2 separate regions of the Homo sapiens genome follow, and region 2 is linked to region 1. Evidence: fine-mapped expression QTL. A gene starts in region 1. The other region holds a variant in brackets. All regions are shown on one strand. Distances are between the middles of the regions. Region 1 holds the start of RASGRF2 (Ras protein specific guanine nucleotide releasing factor 2). Region 2 holds the start of LOC124901017 (a long non-coding RNA gene).

Region 1 (8,333 bases):
ACACCAGATAAATGGTTTTATTAGCTCTAAGTAGTTCATTCTAGTATTTCGTAAATAAGGAATTCTTTTTGGTCAAAATAATACTGGAAACAAGGAAGGAATAATCCTTTTGGGTTTTACCTACTTGGGGAAGAACCTGGCTTTACTAATTAAGTATCAAGAGATGATACAGAATCACATATGTGCCAGAACTGGTAGCACTCTATCCTGTAGAAACAGTCTGGGATTCTTGGTGAGTCTGCATTATTAAATATATTATTCTCCACATCTACAAGCCATCAAAATGACAATTCCCCAAGTGATCTTCTGTCAGGCTAAGAAAAGGATCTTGGCAATACTGTGGCTTTGTTACAGGAAAGCGGTCCCAATCCAGACCCCAAGAAAGGATTCTTGGATCTCTCACAAGAAAGAATTCAGGGCGAGTCCGAAGTGCAAAGTGAAAGCAAGTTTAAGAAAATAAAGGAATAAAAGAATGGCTACTCCATAGACGGAGCAGTCCCGAGGGCTGCTAGTTGCCCATTTTTATGGTTATTTTTTGATGACACGCTAAACAAGGGGTGGATTATTTATGCCTCCCCTTTTTAGACCACACTGGGTAACTTCCTGACATTGCCATGGCATTTGTAAACTGTCATGGTGCTGGTGGGAGCGTAGCAGTGAGGACGACCAAAGTCACTCTCGTTGCCATTTTGGTTTTGGTGGCTCCTTTACTGCAAGCTGTTTTACCAGCAAGGTCTTTGTGACCTGTATTTTGTGCTGACCTCCTATCTCATCCCGTGACTTAGAATGCCTTAACCGTCTGGGAATGCAGCCCAGTAGGTTTCAGCCTCATTTTACCCGGCTCCTATTTAAGATGGAGTTGCTTTGGTTCAAATGCCTCTGACAGCTTTGCTTGACATAATCTTCCTCCAAGAACCCAGTGCGGATGCATTTCTGAATTATAGAAACCACAGGGAAAAGTCCTTGCAGAAACTCATGCAGCCCATGTACATTTTACTAACAAAACAGAGTTTAGGAGAAAGAAAAAAAAAATTAAAACCTACCTTGTGCATCTGAATACTAAGGCATGAGTTAGGGATTTTGAAAAGCTGTAGGTTAGGTTGTGCACTCCCCACTCCCCTAAACTTCAAAGCTTTAGACAATTCAGATAAAATTTCCCCTCCCACCTTTCCTTCCTCCCTCCTTCCGTCCTTTCTTTCCTCTTTCCCTCCTTCCCTCCCTTCCTTCCTTTTCTCATCAAATTATCTGAATAATGTCTCCCTCTCTATTTAGTAGAGTTTCCAGGTATGACAGCTCATTGCTATTTTTCCCCTCTTAACTTATCTAGAAAAGGGGAAAGAGGCCACTTGCACTGTGATCATATGCTTTGTTGCCCATAAAAAATTTTTTTAAACTGGCCCGCTCAAGAAAGAATCCACGCAATGCAAGAAGGAAAAACAATGAATTCAGAGAAGCTTGTTCCCATCCACTTGGAACGCAGTCTCTTTTTGGCAATCTATTTGATCAGCTGGGGGAAAGCATTCTTATTTACATAAACTCCTGATCCTTTGTGTTTCAGGATGGCACCATTCCAGGGATGTGGTTTCCATATGAATGGAGACTAAAGGCCCCCAGGTGCCCATCAGACACCTAATAGAGATAGCTTCTCTAGGCTGTCCAGGAATGTCTGGTTGTTTTCATCTCTTACAATCTTGCAGAATGATCTAATATTTGCAAATGCTTATGCCCTCTTTAACAATTCAATGACCAAATAAGAAATTAATTTAGAAAATAATTGTCTGAAAAACTTGTATGCCTACTGCATATAAACTCTCCTACTGGGTGCTACAGGGATTACAGAGATAGCTCGGCACTTGAGAAACAGACAGGTGAGAAGAAGCACCTAAACATTAATCTTCTTCCTGGCTGGGTGGTGTCGTACTTACAATCCCAGGACTTTGGGAGGCCAAGGCAGGAGGGTTACTTGAGACCAGGAGTTTGAGACCAGCCTGGGTAACATGGTGAGACCTCTGTCTCTACAAAAAGTAAACAAAACCTAACCAGGTGTGGTAGTGCACACCCATAGTCTTAGCTACGCTGGAGGCTGAGGCAGGAGGATTGCTGGAGCCCAGGAGTTTGAGGCTGCAGTGAGCTATGACTTCAGCCTGGGCAACAGAGGAAGAACCTCTCTCTAAAGAAAAAAAGAAAGAAAGAGAGAGAGAAAGAGACAGAGAGAGAGAGAGAGAGAGAGAGAGAGAGAGAGAGGGAGGGAGGAAGGGAAAGAAAAGAAGAAAGAAAGAAATTCTCTTCCTCTTACACTGAGCACACCAGGAACACAGGCAATGCTTTTTCTCTATATGCTCTACATCACCTAAATATAGTGTTGAGGACATAAACTAGTGATCAATAAATGGTTCTTGCAGTGAATTTCCATAATCAAAACCCACGGTAATCACCAGCCAAATTTTGCAGGAAACAAGCACTCCTTTCTCTCATTGTCCAGGGGCAGAGCAGATGGGGTGGCATATAAGGGCCACATAACCTTCCGTGGTAGGAAGTGATGTCAGACAAGAGGTTGTGAATATTTCATGTGGTTCAAATGAAAAGCACATTTAAGGAGACAGAGATGGTAACTGAGACATTGCTTATTGAAGAAGAGAATCTTTCACATCTGAAAAAACTCAAGTGCGTTAGAAGGTTTGACTACTCATGGCAAAATAGTTTTTGTGCTGATTTCACACTCTTACTGGTTTCTACTAAAAAAATGGAGCTTATCAACCACACAGGTGTCTACTCACTTACGGTTCTCACAGCTGGGATTGGACCACAGAGAAAGAAATAAAAGGCCTCCTGAGGCAATCACCAGCTCCTCTGCATCTAGAATCTGGCTCCAAAATGTTGCCTGCATTTACTTACTGTCTCTGTACTTGTGTCTTCTCTGAAGAACAATGCAAACTTCCAGCTGGGTTAAACCCAATTTAGCACAGCACTGTCCTTTAGATATTTTTAAAAACGTAAAGAGAAATGACCACTGTTCTCACGCTGTAATTTCAAAATGGCAATTTCCCTACTATATACTTGTTAAAAGTGAAAATTTTTTAAAAAGGTAAAAGGAAAAAAAAACCCCACTCAGCTGCTCAGTGAGGCAGAGTTAAAATATTCTGCAGAAACAGCACTTATGAAACAGGCAGAACCCCTGGGGCTACCAATTCATGAACACACAACTGGCAGTACAAGACAGGTGTATTGTCGTAGACTCATCACCCAGAAAAGCATTATTATTTACTTTTAACAATAAACATTTTATGATGGCACTCCGTTTTAGTGATAAATGACTGGGGAAAATAAAAAATGTGTATAGCAGAATCAAATATAGGCCCTCCCCGGGGGTTTCACTGGCTTTCTCTCACAGCTGCTGGCTACATTATTTCTTTTCCACTTACATTTTTACAGCATGGGGTTGGGGCGGGGGGGTGGCTCTTGGTTTTCTGGTTGTACCTGTCAGATTTGTTAATCAAATGAATCCAGTCCTACAAACGATGAGCCTGTGACAGCTGGCCTTTGGGGTTGGATTCTGCCCTGGGCAGCAAAGTGTCCCTTATTTGGGTATTTTTTTCCAGGTTGAAAACTCGGCACTTAAAATTTAGCATCTTACCACTGTGAAATAACAGGCATTCCGAAAGAACTTCGGCATCTGATGCCTTTCCGGGAACACTTGGGCCACTCTCCTTAACCTTTACCGGCAGTTTTAAATACTACAATGCAGGTACAAGCAGAAAAGCCAAGGATGCGGGCTATGCAAAGCCACTCTGTGACTCTACCTACTGCCATGGGAACGTACTTATGGATGTGGCATGTGAGTGTGTGTGTATGTGTGAGTGGGTTTGTGAAAGTGTGTGGATTCGTGCGAATACGTGTGTGAGTGCTTTGTGTGTATTTTTGGATGAATTTGTGAATGTACATGTGTGTTCATCTGTGTGTGTGTTTGATTATCTGCTTATGAGTCTGTATGATTGTGAACGTGTGAGTATATGTGTGCTGTTTGTGTGACTGTATGAGTGTAATGTGTGTATGAATGTATGTTTGAATGTGGGTTTGAGTGAATGTGTGGGTTGTGTGTGAATGTGTGTGTAAGTGAGCATATCACTGCGTGCATGTGTGTAGCTCCTTAAGTGTGTATCTGAATGTGGGTTTTATTTTTGTGCGCGGGAACGCACATTGTGGGTGTATTTGTCTATATGCATTTGTGCGTTGTGACTGTGTGTTGAGTGTGAGCGTTGTGAGAATGTGTATTTGTGTGTCATGAGTGTGTGCGCGTGTGTTTTTGTGCATATGTGCGCGCATTGTGTTTGTGTGCATTTGTGAGTGTATTTTTGTGCGTCTGAGTGTGTGCATTGTGGATCTGGGTGAATGTACTGGTCTGCGTGTGTGTGGGTGTGCGTGTGTGTGTGCGCGCGTTGTGCGCGAGTGTGCGAGCGCGTGTGAGCGGGTGTGTGGTGCGGCCGGGCGCCTCCACCTCCCTGATCCGCCCCATCCCGGCGGGCGCCCGAGCAGAGGCAGCGGCCCGGGCCGGGGCGGGCGAGGGAGGGACGCGAGCCGGGGCAAGCGGGCTGCGCCACCGCCGGCGCCGCGCCGACTTTGCCCTTTAAATCGGTCTCCAAGCCGATTACAGCTGAGCTCCCACGTGACGTTTTACCTTCTGTCTCCCGGAGCGCGTTGCCCGAGGACAGTCCTTCCCCGGCTGCCGCCCCAGCCCGCCGCGGGGGCTCGGCTCCCGCAACTTTGGGCGAAGCGGCGGCCGGCTCGGGCGCCCTCGCGGGGCCGCGCTCCACGCGGGCGTTGGGGGCTTGGGGGGCTCCGGGGGCTCGGCCGGGAGGGTGGTGGTTAGGGCGGAGAGCGTGCCTCGGCCCCAGCCCGCGCCCCTGCCACCGCGCGCCGCGGCCTCCCGAAAGCGGGCGGGGTGCCCTGCGCGCGGCGTGGGGAAAGGGGGCGCCCTTCGCCGGCCGGGACCTGAGCGGTCGCGCCCTCGAGGGAGCCAGCTGGGCCATGGCCGCGAGGCAGGGGTGAGACCGGCGGCCACCCGTGAGCCCTCCGCACCCGCACCATGCAGAAGAGCGTGCGCTACAACGAGGGGCACGCCCTGTACCTGGCCTTTCTGGCGCGCAAGGAGGGCACCAAGCGCGGCTTCCTGAGTAAGAAGACGGCCGAGGCGAGCCGCTGGCACGAGAAGTGGTTCGCCCTCTACCAGAATGTGCTCTTCTACTTCGAGGGCGAGCAGAGCTGCCGCCCGGCGGGCATGTACCTCCTGGAGGGCTGCAGCTGCGAACGAACGCCCGCGCCACCCAGGGCCGGCGCCGGGCAGGGAGGCGTCCGAGACGCGCTGGACAAGCAGGTACCGCGCGCCTTCTCTCCGCGGTCTCCCAGCCTTGATCGCCGCACTCCCTTGCCGTCCTAATCCGGGGATCAGGGGTCGGGGGTCGTGAAAGAGTGCGGGGACTATGCTCCGAAATCCCCCCGCGTCACCAGTGGCGGGACATCTCCACGCTCCTTCCGATCTTCATCCAGGGATTCTCCCATCTCCATACCCCTCCACCCCACTGCCAAGTGATCAGTCAGAATAGTGGCCCGACTTGCTTTCATTACCCTGGTAGAGGTCGAGTCGTTTCAGCTTCTCTGCCAACCATCTATTGCTTCTCTAGACCTGGCTCGCCAGATTTTTGTCTGGTGACATGTATTGACACCTGTTGGGTGTAGATTGGCAAGACGGAACTAACTTATTTGGAAAAGTTTGATTTCTGCCATACCCGGCTGGCGCGTGTAGATTTCTTTGCCTGCAGATGTTTGACCACTGGTTGGGCTGGGAACAAGCGGGGCTCCCAAGCCGGACAGACACTTTCTGTTGGTCATTTTCAATCAGTCTTTGTGATTTCGGTCAGTTGGCCTTGCTAACATTTGACCTGCTGGGTGTAATTATGAAGGTAAATGTGTATTCATATTCCTCAGGATTAATATTTGGTAGCCACATTCTTGCTATGTTTAAAAATGTGGGCATTTTTAAAGAACGCTTCTGTACTTTTAAATGAATGCTTTGAAAATGAATGCGACCTTTTAATTCTGGGTCATAATTTTATTAGTTTTGCTGTGTGCTCATGGTCGCGGGGTGGGGGAGAAAAACCCTTTAAGTCTTAGTGATCCCAGCCCCTCATTCCTGCAAACACAAAGTTTGTATGTTTCCAATCACCGTTTGGTTATTAAAGTTAAAGCAGACTAATTTTATGCCCCTAATGTTCTCATTTAGCTTCTCAATCCCCACCTTGATATGAAAAAGGCTGATTGTTTTTGCTGTTGCGTAAAAATATTCGCAGCTGAATTTTCCATGTGAGTTCAGATCAGACAGCATCTACCGCACACCACAGAGGCTGTGGGAGGTGCTAGCAATGGAGTGATCCGTAAGATGCCTACCTAACCCTTTGGGGCTCATAAAACAATGTGTAAAATTAAGAGGAGTTAAAACTAGACCGACCGGAAGTTTGAGTTGTTTTCACTATAAATCATTAACAGACTTAAGTGATTAAACTTGTTATAACACTTATAAATCTGAAAGTTTAAATATGCTCTTTAGTTTCTGAGGGCTTGTTCAGAGTCATTTGAAAAACTGATTTCCAACTTTATAGATATAGATACTAGAAATATAAACATAAATTTCAAGTCATGCATTTTAGAATTTAAATTGGGAGAAGAGTTTTGAGGAAACATTTTTTTTCAGGAATATATATAAGTAACATTCTATTGGTGGGATTTTTTTTAAGGTATGTGTTCCAAGGCCCCGCAGGAACCAAAATGAATAGGTTTCTAAATGTTATTATGTCTAAAGTAGAATAGGGTATTTTAAATTACTCAGGATATATATCATTTACTTAATCTCAAATTATTTGTTTTCTTCATATTTATATTAATATAAGATAACCACTTTTGATTTTTTTTTTTTCAGTTAGGGGTGGGGAGTTGTTACCTGTTACAATTCATATGGCTCTCTGACTTGCTAATGTTATATGGAAACCAACATTTTTCTACTTGGAAAATATCTGGACTGTAATCTTCAAGACTGTTTTCTTTCTTGCACTTTAATAAGGAAACATAACTTCCAAATAGTTTGACTTTCATGCCACTTTCTAATGGTTGTCCTAAATAGGCCATCTAATGAAAAAATTGTTTTCCCTTTTTATGACCATGCAAATGATGAGTATTTCTCAGTCATTTTATTCATCTTCAAGAGGTTAGAAATTAGAATCTTTGGTGTTTGTAGATAAATCTGAGATGTAGAGAAGCAAGCATTCCAGAATGGATTAGGAGTTGGGCTGGGAAACCTTCCACATTTTGTCTTGCATTAGATGTGCTGCTGTGAGTTGGGTTAGCTTAGCCCACTGATGCTTTTCTCTGGCACTGCCAACTGGGTGTGTTTGAATAATTAAGAAGAAACTGTGAAAATAAGAAACAAGGAGAAACATTCTACCTTAAATCTACAGTTTATCCAGTTGGTTACCTCTCAGCTAATTTATGTTGCTGAGGTGCTTAGATCATCCAGACACTGAGACACGAAGGATCTGTGGAGGATGTGAGGAGATGAGCACATCCCAAGGTTTGCTTCTTTCTCCTTATATGCTTCTGGAGCTTTCCATATCAATATCTCCCTCAACACTATCAACACAGTTGAAGGTTAGGGCTTGAAACAGGACTTAGTGAGGCAGAGTCATTTTTCTTCACCAAGTTTCCGTGTTATTTCTTTAAGCACATCTCTTAATCTTTTCTCTTTTTTTCTGTTAATGAAATCTCTGTTTCCTAATATGTAAAAATTAAGAATTTGGCTAAGTTGGTTTCCAATTACCTTTCAATAATGGCATCTTCTATTTCTAAGGTTATGACAGACAGGGTGAGCTTTTTGCAGTGTGGAGAATGTGAAAGACCATTTCACAAGATTCAGAGATTACCAGTGTTTGTAATAAATACTGCATCTGAAAAGCCGAGGACAAGCAGGTGATTGAAGTGGACATTCTGATAAATTAGTTAGGTCAGCAGATGTGCAAACCTATAGTAACATCATTGCCTGAGGCAGAGACATTCTTATTACTCACATTGGAGGGCGACATATTTATTGTAATCCCCTTGACAGTTACAATAGTTGATGTAATTATTGCTATAAACTGCCTCTAAGCATTCTTGGGAGCTTAAAGTCCACATATCCTTCAATGATTTTTATGCTTATTAGTTGTGTTTTTAGGTAAGTTACAAGAAGAAAACACCCATTGGTTTGCTTCCTGTAAATAACAATTCAAAATAAGTTGGTTGACAACAAC
Region 2 (8,333 bases), 250 kb after region 1:
GGATGTCAAGTTCTCAACCGGTCCAAACCTGTTTCCTCATTTATAAAGTGGGACTCATAATAGCTACTTCATTAGGTTGTTGTGAAGAGTACATGATGTGAAATGTGTAAGGAGGTTAACACAATGCCTGAAAAGTCATTAGCACTCGTAGTAAAGTGAGTATTATTACTGTTAGAAGCACTGACAGTAGTTCCTGGAAAAAGTAGTTTCTGCCGTTAAGGCCATATGGCCCAAGTGAAACCAGGCTGGATCTTAGTCAACTCAACTTTCTTTAGGCTTCGTCACCTTTTCCACACAAAGACAGTGTGGACCAATCCCAGGACAGACACTGGTTGCTTGTGGCTCTGTTTTTGGACTACCCTAATTGAAAGAGGAATTTTCTATTCATACAGCTTGGATAATCCCATTTCCTTTTATTTGGTGTGTCATTATAAATGCACAATTATTAAACTGGTGATACTGCTGATAGACGTGGTAGTGATGGTGGTGGGGAACCCAGGATCCTGGAATGTTCATCAATGCCCAAGCATCGCCAGAAGACTAGAAGCAAATCTTTTCTCTATTGGAACTGAACCAGAAGTGCAGAGGCCTCCACATCTGAAGGGAAAGAATTCTGAACCATGCCCTCTAGAAAACACAGGCTATGACTGTGAGAGATAAAAAACATATCATATGGTGGTTAAGTGCAGCCCTGACATTTAGAGATTTATATGCATTCCTGACATCTAAGAGATATGAACATAAAACATGTTTTCATGCATAGGTTACATTAATGCAATAAAGCAAATGCTCTTTTGAATGAAGCCTCCCTGACTCACAGTCTCACAGGGGTCACAATTAAGTGTATGATGAATACACTTAATTGCCATATATAGTTTGTTGCCCTGTTTGTAAATAAAAACCTGTACTCAAAACTTATATTTCTAAAATACCATCTCTCCTCCTCCAAAGTTGTCTAACTAGCTGTCTTCAAAATCTATTCAGTGTAGAGTTTTTCTAGATACCCAACATGCCACAAAATAAAAAGAAATAGTGATTAACTTCTTGGATGTTCAACTGTGATGGGCTCAGGTCATAGAAAAGTCATCCTCAAACCCCACATAGCATCAACAGGAAGGCATAAAATGTTAGGTAACTTAATGGCACCAGAGTGCCTCTTGGAAAATGAGGGTAAGATCATTGAGAAGAGGAACATTTGATGGGAGCTAACTAACTTTTTGACTTTTTCTTTCCAAGGGAAAGATATTACCCAGCTTCATAAAAAGATCTTTCCCACTGGTACACATAATTATGGAGCCACAGATCTCTCTCCAGGAACCTAGAATGGTGGAAAAGATGATGTGCACTTTCGGAAAAGTCACTTTTATCTCCCATGTGTAACCCTTACATGTAATTTAATAGGCTTTGGAGAAAGAGTTAGCTTTAACTTATTTTTTCCTCATCTTAATCTGCCCTTTAAGATAAAATGACTATTTCTTTCTACTCACAAATAATATGGCTAAGTGCCGATAAGAGGGCTGCTACTAGTATAATCTAGAAGGCTCCTGCTCCCCCTTCAGACAGCCGAGGGAAGGGAGTTGTGTTTATTGACTGTGTGCTGTGTGTGGGACCCTTGAAGAGGTGCCTTCCCTGAGCCTGCTTAAGAGAAGCGCAGAGTAAAGGAAGGGCCCACAACCCTGAGCAACTTAGTCAGTGTCTTTGAGCTTTTGTTTCCTTATCTGTAAAACGGAGATCACAATGCCTGCATTATCTGCTGTCCTGTATAACAATCCCTTGGAAGGGATCTGTTAGGATACAGGAGATAGTGCATGTCAAATGTTTAGCACATGCCTGGCATAGAGCGGGCATACAGGAAGCCATCTCTGTTGATATTATGTTTTTGAGGGTTGTGGCTGTTGTTTTAATCAACTCAGAACACAACAGAACATCACATCATCATTACTTCTTTTAAAAGTAGCTTCCTCTTACTCTAGTTTCTCTTCATATCGCATAAATCTTTCGCCTTTTACTAAAAGTAGCTTCCTCCAGCAGAGTACATGGTTTGGGACCGTTTAACTATTTTATTTTGTTTTATTTTATTTATTTATTTTTGAGACTTGAGTCTTGCTCTGTCGCCCAGGCTGGAGTGCAGTGGCGCTATCTCGGCTCACTGCAAGCTCTGCCTCCTTGGTTCACGCCATTCTCCTGCCTCAGCCTCCCGAGTAGCTGGGACTACAAGTGCCCGCCACCTGCCCAGCTAATTTTTTGTATTTTTAGTAGAGGCAGGGTTTCACCGTGTTAGCCAGGATGGTCTCGATCTCCTGACCTCATGATCTGCCCTCCTACTATTTTAATGCTTTGAGTATGTGCTTGTGCCTTCCTTTTGGAAAACATAAAATGCCTGGCTCCAATGGCAAATTATGTAATTGGATGCCTACTGGACTCCAGTTTTCCTGGACTCTGAACGTCTGTTGCACAAAAATACCCTCTACTCTGAAACCAGTATTTAAGGTATTAACTTGTGTTTATTCATTCACTCATTCATTCATTCATCATTTATTTTTTTAAAAGATATTTATTGAGAGCTGAATAACATGTATGAGATTCAGGGCCAAAAGTGTCTGAGGAAAGTCCATCTGGAATGCAAGGGGGAAGAAGCTATCTGCTGGCTCCTGCCTGGCATTGTTCAGAGTCTTGCCACATAGGAACCCCCTGTGCTTCTGGTCTACGTAAGCTTGAGAAAGGGGTGGCCCTGCGTCTCCTGCCTCTGTGAGGGCAGGGAAAGCCCACGGTAGGGGATAGAGGTGTGGGGAGGAGGGCACTCAGGCCTAGGAGTCCAACTGGCTGATAGCATTAGAGGATGCTCCATTTTACATTATGGATGGTAACTCAGAGCTCACCCAGCTCACCCTCAGACTCACTGTGACGGTGGTTGTTTCATTTACAACCTTGTATGTAACAGGTTGCCTTTTTGTTCTAAATCAGCTGTCCTGATGATTCTCTCATGCCTTGAGCATGTTTTCTGTTTGGGGATTGCTCATCTCCAGCTCAGCAGTTGGTTGTGCTGCATGGCCTTGTAGACCCAAATCCTCAGACCTCCCATCCAGGGAAAACCAAACTGCATTTGTAGTTTTGTTCCTAGGTTGTCTATTTTTTCTTTCATGGAGGATAATTTGATATCTTTTTCAGGGCCCTTTCACAAGATGACCAAGATGACATCCACCTAAAATTAGAGGATATAATTCAAATGGTAAGTCTGACCACATTTTTATCTAGCACAACTATGTGCAAACTACCTCTCCAAGGCGAGCAATATGCTTGTAACCGATCAAGGAGTGTTGTAGTATTAGGCCCTCTGTCCTATCTGTGAAGCTCTGTGAGATGAACCACATTTGGTGTGGGGTCTAGCAGTTGGTCTAAGATATTCATGTTGGCTTTGATACTTTTAGCTTTCTGCCATTTTTTTCATAGTTAGAATTTAGTGGTGAACTTCATGCTTCCACACATGCAGCTGTCTGCCTCACTGACCTGCAATGAGATGGCAGGCGCCCTCTCCTGGGTGTTTCATTTCCCTCCCTCATCTCTTGCAGACTGACTGCATGAAGGCCGAATGCTTTGAGTCCTTGTCGGCCATGGAGCTGGCAGAACAGATCACCCTCCTGGACCATGTCATTTTCAGAAGCATTCCCTACGAGTGAGTGCCACCCCCCACAGCAGCAGGGCTCGGCTGCTCTAGCTGTCTTAGAAGTTGACATTATTCCTAAGGCAGGTTGTGTGTATGTCTGTCCCCTCAGTTCCTGTGTGAGTATCTACCAGTTGTTTCCATCCATGGAACTGGCACGCCTCTGTGTCCAGCACTCTGCAGGATGGGAGCAGGACCAACAACAGCAAGGGACAAAGAACCCTGCCCAGGGACTTAGTCAACCTGAGTATCAGAGTAATTTCGAGTGTTTTTAATGACTATACAAAATAATTCCTGTATGCTGCATCTCACTTGTCCCTTGTTTCTTGCTGTGTCTGGTGACCTGCTCAGGAATGAAGTGAATGATCAGGAATGCTGCCCTGAAGACAGCCCATCTGACCAGGTGGAGC[T/C]TCTGCCCCGCTGAACTGCCTGGTCAGGGCAACATGCGGTACAAGCCTAAAAGGAGCGCTTTTCAGCCCTGACCACCTGCGCCCTCCTGAGCGCTGGGGAGAACAAAACGCAATCCCTGCCTTTGAAATCTGCATCCTCCAGGAGAATGGCAGGCAGCGCAGAGTGGAGGGAGAAAATTCTGCTTCTGACTAACATTTTTGGTAGTGATGAAATTTTTGGACCCTCTGCTAAGGCTTAATGTTTTTAAAAGCTAATCCTGGGAAAATAGTCTTGATTTCTAAGGTAGTACTTAACCTCTTTATTTCCCTTGTGTTGGTTCTTGTTTTCCAACTTCAGAGAAGGCTTTATAGGATCCTAATAGGGACACAGTTCCAAACATTTATAAGAGAAAGCTGGAAGCTGAAGAATCTTCCTTTTTGGCATTGAGAGGTAAACTGCAACAGCCGAGGTAAAATTCACTTGTGAGGCTGGCAGCAGCAGGTGTCAGGAACCATTCTAGGCCATGTCAAATGGAATTTTTCTAATATTCGTGACAACTGTCCAGGATCATAGCCACCATATTTTTAAAAACTTAATTGGTTTTGTGTTTTGTTTTGAACTTCCAGGGAGTTTCTTGGGCAGGGGTGGATGAAGCTGGATAAAAACGAAAGAACTCCTTACATTATGAAAACCAGCCAACACTTCAATGACGTGAGTAACCGTAACAGTAAAACCGTGGGCGTGTCACAAGAAGATGGATATTGGGGTCTAAAGACTCCTCTAAAACAAAGCAACTCTGTCACCCACTTTTTTTTTTTTTTTTTTTTTTTTTTTTTTTTTTTGAGACAGAGTCTCGCTCTGTCGCCCAGGCTGGAGTGCAATGGCGTGATCTCAGCTCACTGCAACCTCCACCTCCCTGGTTCAAGCAATTCCCCTGCCTCAGCCTCCCGAGTAGCTGGGATTACAGGTGCATGCCATCATGCCTGGCTAATATTTTTGTATTTTTAGTAAAGGGGTTTCACCATGTCGGCCAGACTGGTCTCGAACTCCTGACCTCAGGCAATCTGCCTGCCTCAGCCTCCCAAAGTGTTGGGATTACAGGCGTGAGCCACCGCACCTGGCCTGCCACCCACTTTTAAACAGAATTGATGGGATATTGACGACAAGCTTAAATCTCTAAGAGCTCACAGTAATGTAATAATGTCCAATTAACTTCCTGACATAAAAGGTTCACCTTTGATGGTACCCAGTGCTCAATAATGTACAGGTTGCTGATCCTATTTTTATCATGATTATCACTACTTCCTGTTCATATATTGACTAACAGAGTGAGCAGTACATGTGTCACTGGCCCCTGGTGGTGTTGGTCACGGTAAGGCTGGGTTGGTGCAAGTCCTCATCATTACTGAACGTTCAGCCTGAATTACATTCCAGGGTTGGAAGGGGCCTCTTGGAGCATAATCACATTGTTGCTATAGTTCTGTGCAGCAGTGGCCAGCTGTCAGTCCATCTTACAGCTCTGCTTTTCCCCAGCGGTAAGATTGGGAGATGCTTTTATACCTCCCCGCTCTTCCTTAGTGCTGTTCTCATAGTCTTAGTCCTGTGGTAGAACAAGTAACAGGTGTGGGAGTGTCTTCTGGCCTATCCAGGCAACGGGAAGCCTCCCCTTCCAGTTTCACTAAACTATAGTAAAAGGAATAACGATTTTAAAAACAACAACAACAAACTACCAGGAACCCCATAGGTAAATTAATAAGTGATCTAGAATCAAAATGCAAAAATGACAGTTTAGATTCCCAAGACAGTGTTTCATGCAGGCTTTCCCCAAAGCACGTGGATGCTGTGTGAATGCTACCACACAATGAGCTTCAGTGCCGCTGCTGCCTAAAGGACAAGGGCATGGCCCATCTAGTGCCTGCCCTGAGAAACAGATTCCCTGCTGTGGGAAGCAAACCTCTGTTACCTGTGGTGAACCAACACAGGGGATATAATGGACACTCAAAGAGAGGTTCGATCCCAGGCTCCAGACCCACATGTCTCCTCTGCTGGGACGACTGCTACATTGCATTCTTGACAATTACAGATGGAACCTTTCATCTGCACCCCAGAGCCGCCAAGCCTGCTTCTTCATTGTCCTCTCTGTTCTCAGTCTTGGGTAGTGGCCTCACCATACACTCACTCACCCAAGCACAGGATCTAGACGTCATCTTCTCCCTTACCAGCTCACCCTTACCACTGCCCAACATATTTGCAAACTCTAAATCTACATATATCTCAGGCTCTTCCCCACCCTGCCTTCCCCGCTGCCACCACCTTGATGTGGCCTTTTACCTTGTCTCTCCAGGAGCTCCTGACTCATCTCTCCCCTGCAACCTCACTGCCCTCCAATCCATCTGTTAGGTTCAGAGTCAGGTTCCAGCCCATGCTGAGGTCTGAGGGGAGTGGGTGGATGCCTGAAAGAACACGTAGGGGGCCGTAGGTAGGTGAAAGATGATTTTGTTCAGCGGGCGCTCTCATCAGCAGCTGTCTCATTAGCAGCTCTTTCATCAGCAGCTCTCTTACGCTGTCTCTTCTGTCTCAGCTGCTTGAGCCAGTCGCTCCCGCGCACAGCTGTGTGGCCAGCTCTCACTTGCCTTCAGGGTCAGCAGCTTAACTCTTTCTCTGGGCATGAGCTCCTGTACAGTGTCAACAGGGCAATTATACCTTTTACAGACAATAGTGGCTTAGAGCCAAGTGATGGCCTTCCGTGTTATGGCTACATGGCTGTGATCACAAGTGGAGTTATACACCTGTGCTCTAAACTCACTGAGTCCCTCTGGCCCGGATGTCCACCTTGGCCTATCCTAGACCAAAGCACAGCCATGTACCTTAAACCATCCTGCATGCAGTGGCACAGGAATGACTTCTCTGAAAGGTCAATCTAATTATCTACCTCCCTTTGACAAAAATCTGTCAGTGGCTTCCCCTTACCTTAGGGATATGGTCCCAACCTGTCATACAAGAGCACAGCCCATCTGTCACCCTTGCCTCTCCCAGTCCTTGTGCCCCTCAGATGGCTGCCAGGTCCTCCATTACACCATCCCTCCCACCTCTGTCCCCTTGCTCTCATACTTAGATCCTTTAAGACTCAATGCAAGGCTGGAGACTGTAGCTCACACCTGTAATCCCAGCACTTTGGGAGGCCGAGCTGGGAGGATTGCTTTAGCCCAGGAGTTCAAGACCAGCCTGGGCAACATAGTGAGACCCTGTCTTTATAAATACAAAAAATTAGCCAGGCATGGTAGTGCACACCTGTGGTCCCAGCTACTTGGGAGGCTGAGGTGAGAGGATCGCTTGAGCCCTGGACATCGAGGCTCCGGTGAGCTGTAATCATGCCACTGTATTCCACCTGGGGCAATAGAGCAAGATCCTGTCTCCAGAAAAAAAAAAAAAAAAGACTCAGTGCAGGCGTGACCTCTTCCTAGAAGCCTCCTCTGTACTAGACCAGATGCCCCATGCTGCCTGTGTATTCCCAAACCCCACCGTGAATAGACTCAACTTTGTGTTTCGCTGCATGGCATTTACCTGTTTATGTATCTGCGACCCTCCCCTTCCCACCTACCTAGGCTCAGATTGCCTTAAGGTCAGGGATGGATTTATTTGTCTTTCTGTTCCCAGCACCTAAAAGAATCTATTCTATCCCATTTCCTCAATAGTTATTGGCAAGAACTTCTTCATCGAAATTACTGATTAACAAAACCACTTCTTCCCAGGACAAACTGGATTCCAAATAATTCCTCTCCTCACGCTAAGGATGCGCAGGCACTCAGTGAACAGCACTGCAGTAGGTGCTTTAGCGAATTTCCACAGTGATGGTGTTGAGGCACTATGAGATCTTAAGTGTCTTCAGAATCATCAAAGAATGGGTGAATCCATCAGACTTGGTGTATGGATATAAGATTACACGCCCTATATTCCCTTTGTTAATACGGTAATCTCATTTCACTTTTTTTTTCCTCTCCATATTACAAGAGCTGAGCTTCTTAAACTGGCTTTAAGTAATAAAATTACGGTACTTAGCCTCAAAACTATAGGTCCTTTTAACTGCTGGTGAAGAATAAGATGAAGAAAATGTTCTTTTCCTTGCAGCCAAGTGATTCTGGTTTGAGAGTTAATCAGCTCAGAATTTGATCTAACTGGGGGCAAGTGTTTTTTTCTTTCTCTGTGATAACTGTGGCTTCTCAGAGTGAGTAATCACACACTGTTGGGGGCCAAGGAGTAAAGGGAAAGGCCCCAGGGAGTG

The links.
Region 2: its variant is fine-mapped to the expression of RASGRF2 in whole blood (TOPMed, PIP 0.96).

The regions. Positions count from the first base shown.
Region 1 is chr5:80,955,656-80,963,988 of GRCh38, forward strand. It overlaps RASGRF2 (Ras protein specific guanine nucleotide releasing factor 2), which reads left to right and starts at 4,708. Exons shown (of 27, transcript NM_006909.3): 1 at 4,708-5,371. The coding sequence starts at 5,084. It overlaps RASGRF2-AS1 (RASGRF2 antisense RNA 1), which reads right to left and starts at 5,252. Exons shown (of 4, transcript NR_105015.1): 1 at 5,126-5,252. RefSeq lists enhancers at 1,200-1,720, 4,811-5,532.
Region 2 is chr5:81,203,677-81,212,009 of GRCh38, forward strand. It overlaps RASGRF2 (Ras protein specific guanine nucleotide releasing factor 2), which reads left to right. Exons shown (of 27, transcript NM_006909.3): 20 at 3,169-3,229; 21 at 3,570-3,673; 22 at 4,678-4,762. LOC124901017 (a long non-coding RNA gene) reads right to left here and starts at 7,262. Exons shown (of 2, transcript XR_007058842.1): 1 at 6,383-7,262; 2 at 2,535-5,734. The variant T/C (reference allele first, on the strand shown) is at 4,072.